Linked DNA regions of Homo sapiens. The protein of the gene in region 1 interacts with the protein of each later gene in a biochemical or structural test. Each region holds a gene or a part of one and is shown on either strand. Other genes may lie near its edges.

What was found. Proteins that work in one complex are often made in the same cells at the same time.
Region 2: the proteins of FGFR4 (region 1) and TGFBR3 form a complex in vitro, tested with the Homo sapiens proteins (one large-scale study listed by IntAct).

Annotation. Positions count from the first base shown.
Region 1 is NC_000005.10:177,093,415-177,096,914, reverse strand, and holds part of FGFR4 (fibroblast growth factor receptor 4 isoform 1 precursor), read right to left. Parts: coding exon 3,364-3,500; intron 3,262-3,363; coding exon 3,140-3,261; intron 1,586-3,139; coding exon 1,475-1,585; intron 1,383-1,474; coding exon 1,192-1,382; intron 859-1,191; coding exon 736-858; intron 629-735; coding exon 558-628; intron 312-557; coding exon 174-311; intron 1-173. UniProt on the Homo sapiens protein: Tyrosine-protein kinase that acts as a cell-surface receptor for fibroblast growth factors and plays a role in the regulation of cell proliferation, differentiation and migration, and in regulation of lipid metabolism, bile acid biosynthesis, glucose uptake, vitamin D metabolism and phosphate homeostasis.
Region 2 is NC_000001.11:91,708,152-91,711,651, forward strand, and holds part of TGFBR3 (transforming growth factor beta receptor type 3 isoform a precursor), read right to left. Parts: intron 633-3,500; coding exon 512-632; intron 1-511. UniProt on the Homo sapiens protein: Cell surface receptor that regulates diverse cellular processes including cell proliferation, differentiation, migration, and apoptosis.

The DNA.
Region 1 (3,500 bases):
GGAGGAGGAAGAGGAGGAGGAGGAAGAGGAGGAGGAGGAAGAGGAAGAGGAGGAGGAGGACGAGGAGTTGTTGTTAGTGTTGTCCTTCTGGCCGGGACACACCCTGAGGCCATGGTCAGGGCAGAGGAGGAGGAGGACTGGAAAGTGGGGTCGAGGGCAGGGTGAGGCCTCACAGCTCTGGGGGGCAGTGTGGGGGTCGGTCCATCCGATGTCCCTCCCGCAGCAGCGAGAACAGCTCCTCCACCGGGATGCCAGGATACGGGGAGCCCCCGAGGGTGAAGATCTCCCATAGCAGGATCCCAAAAGACCACCTGGAGGTAGGGCCAGGGCTCAGTGTGGCTCAGCGCCCTCCCGACGACCGGGGCTAGGACGGGGGACCCCACAGACATGACCCACCACAGCTGTTGGGGAATGGGCTCCTCCTGGAGTCTGGGCCCACTCGGGTCCCAGACCAAATCTGAAGGAGCCCTCGAGCGCATGACTCCTGGGGCCACGTGACTTTGGGCAGTGCCTTGCCCTTTTTGTGGGGTAGGACAGTGACCGCCGGCAGGACTCACACGTCACTCTGGTGTGTGTACACCCGGTCAAACAAGGCCTCGGGCGCCATCCACTTCACAGGCAGGCGGCCCTGGAGGGGAGAGAGGGCCTCAGTGCAGAGTCCCACAGGTCCTCGTGCCTGCCACCCCGGGCCCAGTGCCCCTCCACCCCCATCCAGTTCTGCCCCATCTCCCTCACGTTGCTGGTTTTCTTATAGTAGTCAATGTGGTGGACGCCGCGGGCCAGCCCAAAGTCAGCAATCTTCATCACATTGTCCTCAGTCACCAGCACATTGCGGGCAGCCAGGTCCCGGTGGATACACTGCAGGGAGCGGGGGCTTGGGTGCCTCAGGACACCTGGCCTGGAGTTGAGCACACACCACCCCCCAGCAGGCCCGGGGGCAGGGGCCCTCCACCCACTTTACAGAGGAGGAGGTCAAGGTTTAGAAACGGGGAGTGCCTTCTCCTGCGTCCCCTCTCCCCTCTGGGGAAGGGTGAGGAACGAGTGGGGAATGCAGGAAAGCGTGAATGCCTGGGGACACTGAGGTGGGGTCATGAAAAAGAGCAGAGAGGGAGAAGTCGGGACATTGAATGCCACAGGCCTGAGAGTGGAGCTGGAGAGACTGAGAGGGGCTCAGAGCCCTAGCGCCTGTACCTTCCGGGACTCCAGATACTGCATGCCTCGGGCCACCTGGTAGGCGCAGGAGACCAGGACTGGGAAGGAGAGCGGCCCCTCACTGCTCCGAGGACCGTCGGGGCTGAGGTCGGGGCCTGGGGGGCGCCGGGCCCGCAGGAACTCCCGCAGGTTTCCCTTGGCGGCGCACTCCACGATCACGTACAGGGGCCCTGCAGAGGGAGTGGAGGGAGCGTGGAGAGGCTGCCAAAGCTTTGGCTCTGCACCCTAACGGCCCGTGCAGCCAGCCCCGCCTCGGCCCCACCTTCCTGGGTGCAGACACCAAGCAGGTTGATGATGTTCTTGTGTCGGCCGATCAGCTTCATCACCTCCATCTCCGAGACCAGGTCGGCCAGGTCCTTGTCAGAGGCGTTGTCTGTAAGGGCAGCAGACGGGGTGAAGAGGCTGCCCTCCAACTGCACGAGGGAGCATGCAGAGGCAGGTGCAGGACAAGCAGCACTGGACCAGGGCTACGTAGGTCTAGGGCTGAATCCTTGCTAGGCTGTGTGGCCTTGAAAAAGTCTCCTAGCGTCTCTGAACCTCAGGTTCGTCTTGTGGGAAACAGAGCAGTGGGTCACACCCTGCCTGTCACAGCAGTTGCAAGGATGCAACTGTATCAAGGATCTAAGAGGCAGGCCTTCCAGCGGGCAGGCCCAGGACACAGGAGAGAGGGGAAGAGCTCGGAGCAGGAAGGAAGGAAGGAAGCTGCCGCTGGAGGGGTCAGCGGTAGTCCCCGCATGGGGTCAGAGCTTCTGGGTGCGGAAAGCAGGCTGGCGCCCTGGGGTCTGTTTGACCAGGGCCTGGCTTCCAACTGGCCTGGGAATTCAGGGAGCTGGCGGCAGGCCGGGTGCAGCCGGGGAGCTTGGGAAGAAGGCTGCTTTGGCTTCTCTGGCTGAGCCCCTGGGGCTGACCTGTGGCCCTGGGCCAATGACACAATGTGCATTTCTCAATCCCTGCCTCCCAGGGAGCACCAGGTGGCCCCAGCTGTGTAGAGAGGAGGGGAGGAGCAGAAGAGCAGTGGAGGCCATTCTTGCAGAGGGGGCTGGGGAACTGCAAGGAGAGGCCCTGATGGGTGGGGTGCAGGAGTGCCCAGCAAGAGCACCCCGGGGCTGGGCCTGGGTGCAAGCAGAAGGGCTGTCCTCCTACAGCAGTGGACGTGGGGGGCAGACCTAGGGAGGGTCCAAGGGAGGCTGAGGGTGTGTCTGGGGGGAACCATAAGGAAGGAGGTAGAGGGCCTGTGAGGCTGACAAGGAGATGTGAAGTCAAAGCTGACACAGACTAATGCTGACACAGGATATCAAGCCTGTCACACCAAATTCTTCTCATCATCATCACCCCAGTGGTGAAGATTTATTGAGCCCTGACTATGAGCCAGGCACTTTCCACAATCCTTGGGCTGGGAGTAGGGACTGTTATCTACCCCATATGACACAAGGGAAAACTGAGGCTCAGAAGTCACTTGCCAGGGTCAGGAGCAGAGGTGAATTGCAGGTTTAAGGGTGGGATCCCACAGCCTCTCCCAGCTCCAGGGCTCACCTGGTGGCACCGTGAGCCCCTTCTATTAGTCCCAATGCCATAGCACCTCCTCCAGGCTGCCACGTTCACCTTTTATTTTTATTTATTTATTTATTTTTTCAGATAGGGTCTCACTGTGTTGCCCAGGCTGGAATACAGTGGCGTGATCATGGCTCCCTGCAACCTCCAACTCCTGGATTCAAGGGATCCTCCTGCCTCAGCCTCCCTAGTAACTGAGACTAAAGGCACACACCACCACACCCAACTAATTTTCTTATTTTTTTTTTGTAGAGATGAAGTCTTGCCATGTTGCCCAGGCTGGCCTCGAATTCCTGGATTCAAGCGATCCTCCCACCCTCAGCCTCCTAAAGTGCTGGCGTTACAGGTGTGAGCCACCACACCGGGCCACACTCACCTTTGAGCATCTTGACGGCCACAGTGCTGGCTTGGTCAGGCCGGGCAGGGTCCATGCCAAAGGCCTCTGCACGTACTACCTGGCCAAAGCAGCCCTCGCCTAGGGGCTTCCCAAGCACCAGCCTGGAGATGGAGAAAGTCCAGCCTCAGACCTCCGAGTCACTCCTGCGGAGGGCGGGCTGCAACCCGGCGCCCGCGTCCCTGCCCCCACACAGCTCAGCGCACCTGTCCCGGGGGAACTCCCATAGTGGGTCGAGAGGTAGATCTAGACTCACGAGGCCGGCGAGCAAGGCGGGGCCGCTGGAGGAGAGACGCACGCCTCGTACCAGGGATGAGCTTGACTTGCCGGAAGAGCCTGACTC
Region 2 (3,500 bases), on another chromosome or scaffold:
TGAAAACTGAATTTTAAGATGCATTTGGGCAGTGGTTCTCATCTGTTACACCTAAGATGAATAATGTTCACATATTCTCAAAGGCATTTGCAATTTTGATAAAGCAATACAATAGGTTATAGCCAGCATAAACTTTAGCAGTAGATCACAGAAAGATGAACTGTGGATTGTGTGCAATTCCCGGGACATGGGACTAACTAGAACCCTTTTTTGCATACTCAAGGAAGCATATTTGAATGCAAGGGAGAGTGACCTTATGACAGGAACAACCTAGACCTGATTCTTTTTACAGAGGAAATCATTTTCAAATAGATTACTTACAACTAAGCCATAATGGCTGTAAGAGAACCAGCTAAAGAAAAGACTCTTCGGGCAAAAAATGGTCTTCTAAAGTAACTAACTGGCCCTTTAGTTATCTTGTGAATAAAGCTGGACTTTGATTTACACTATTGGGTCTTCTTAACAAGCAGAGCTCAGGCCCCATGCTCTGATCGTGCCTCCCAAAGCACACCTTTAGATTCTGCTTCATGGTGGATCACAGCAAGGGGCTTAGTGAACGTCTTCTTATTCTGCATCATGGCCCAGATTATCGAGGCGTCCAGCGAGGTGCAGGCTTCGTCAGGAGGCACACACTGCAGACAGGCAGAACAAAGCACAGAATCAGGGGCCACTCAAAAGTGCCTTCACCAGCTCTACCTGCACAGCTGTCCTGTGGCCTTTTATCAGACAGCACACAGCTGTTCACTACAGAAAAGCAAGAAGGTGGGTGTTTTTCAGAGAACACCAAATAACCTGGGAGATATGACAGCAGGCCCAGTGGATTTTTGGTTGTACCTGAAGATGCAAATATCACTGGATAGCTTCTCAATATTGTCCTCCCCCTCCCCTTCTTCTCACAAAACTAAACATTTTAGTGTTAGTTTGAAAAACAGAAAAACTATATGCCTAGTGTTGGTCCTCACCAAGCTGGGCTTCATATACACGGTTCATGTTTGTGATTGGTGATTGTGGGAAATTTCCCATAAAGACGCTCCTCAACTTATGATGAGGTTACATCTTGACAAACCCACTGTAAACTGAAAATATCACTAAGTTGAAAATGTGTTTAATACACCTAAAGTACCGAACAACACAGCTTAGTCCAGCCTACTTTAAACATGCTCAGAACACTTACGTTAACCTACAGCTGGAAAAATCATGTAACACAAAGCTTATTTCATAACAAAGTGTTGAATAGCTCACATAATTTATTGAATACTTAGATTGAAAAACAGAATGGTTGTATGGGGACTGTCTATACTGCATTATGAAGGTGACAGATTTTACATTTTTCTCCAATAAGATAATCATGTTGCTGAGTTTGTTTCATTTTTAATCCTGGTATAGGCTCATGTAAAACTAAACTTTCCAGGGTCATCTGCTTTTAATGTTTCAAAATGCAGATCCTGGGGGCTGTGCCCAGGTTGTGGAGGCCATGAGATTAGCCGCTTCAAACCTATTAATGAGCATGCTCAGGCCCACTACATCTGTTTTGAAAAAATATGATCACACTCCGCACTTTTTCTTTAAAATAACTTTGTTTTCTTGTCTATATTTATCAATAGGTATAGTTCTTTTTTATTTTTCTTGAGACAGGGTCTTGCTGTGTTACCCAGGCTGGAGTACAGTGGTACAATCATGGCTCACTGCAGCCTTGGCCTCATGGGCTCAAGTCATACTCCTGCCTCAGCCTCCCCAGTAGCTGGGACTACAGGTGTGCACCACTACACCCAGCTAATATATATATAGTAGTGACAGGGGTCTCACTATGCTGACCAGGCTGGTCTCGAACTCCCAGCAAGCTGCCAAGCTCAGCCTCCCAAAGTGCTAGGATGACAGGCATGAGCCCACGCCCAGCCTAATAGGTATAACTCTAAAGTAAATGACAGCTTCTATGGTAAGAAGACATATTAATACAGCCATCATTTTAAGTCTATAGCAGGCATCCCAAAAAGCTAATCAAGTTCCATCTTTTCCAAACACAAAAGAGCAAAGACTTTAGGCCTTGCTGTCATTGCTGCTCTGAGCAACATGCCAGTCAGACACTTCTTATAAGACAACCCTCACTGCCCTACTCTTACCCCCTCAAAAAGAGAAAAGCCTTTAACAAGAGCCCTCTTGTAAAGAAAAACAACAAATTTTCTGTGGAGAGGCATGATGACTGAAAAGAGTTGCATTTTGCTTTCCTGTTTTAGTTTACTGTTACTTTCCTATTGAGCTCTTCAGTTAAGCAAGAGTCTATGATTCCGCATTTAACTCAGTGGAGTGTGACCCTGGGCAAGACACTCTGCTCTCCGGGTCTCGGTTTCATCAGCAAAGGGCAGGGTTGGTCTCAACAATCTCTGAGATCTCTTCCTAGAAGATTCTTTGGCGCTCTCTATTGTCACAGAAAGCACTCAGAAAATAATAGAAATGTGAAAATATTACCTATAAGCAGCAAACAGAAAGACAGTGGTAACAGCTCATCCAAGCCTCTGCCAGATAAAGGGCTGTCATTGTACATACTGTCCTATTTGCTCCTCTACCCAGGAGGGAAGCCAGGTATGATTATAACAGTATATGAGGAAATACAGGCTCTAAGGGGTCCAGAGACTGGCTTAAAGTCCCATTGGTGGCAGCAGAGCTTCCTTCTCAGTCCCAGGCTCTTTCCATGTTATCTTACCTTGGGGGTAAAGGGCGACTTGAGGTTTAGGGTTATATCCCATCATGTCATCCCCTGAGGCTTAGAACTCTCTTTACGATTAATTTTCCCAGATTAACACACATGAAGCTGGGCTGTTCCAGGCCAGGTCAGAGAGAAGTAACAGCCAAAGCCACAGCAAAGATCCCTGGTAACTGCTAGGTCTCCCCTCCAAGACCTCTAACCCTTAAACGTTACCCTTCTGCCCACAGGAAGCAGCTGGTCCCACAGCCACACATGAAGCTCCTCATGGCTCTCTACCACTGTCCACTAAGCCCCAACCCTGATGGTGAATGCCTACAAGGCTAAGGCATCACCGCCGCAAAAGCAAACCTAGGAATATAGTCTAAATCACTGTATATGTGCTCCCCAATGATTATGATCATATCTGCTCTATTTTCGTATGCAAACAAAATTCTCTTGGGTGTTATCAGAGAAAAGGATGCCCAGGGGACTATAATGATGCAAGGAATTCAGATCAATTGTAATCTATTTGGAAATGGTGGTTTTTCCTCCTACCTCCATACCTAAGACTTAAAATCTGTGAGTTAAATGAGAAAATTCCATACATACATTATTAATAACACTGCTTGATTCTTAGCCTTTTAGACATTGATATATGACTGCGAAAGGACTGGAAATCAGTTTACTCTGTGTGAGATAGCCACAGAATAAATGCACATATGAAATTATACATAATTATGGCAGATCACAGAAACAAAACTATGGCAGAAGATACCTTTCATATACAAGACCAACCTAGTGGGTATCATAGTTAACC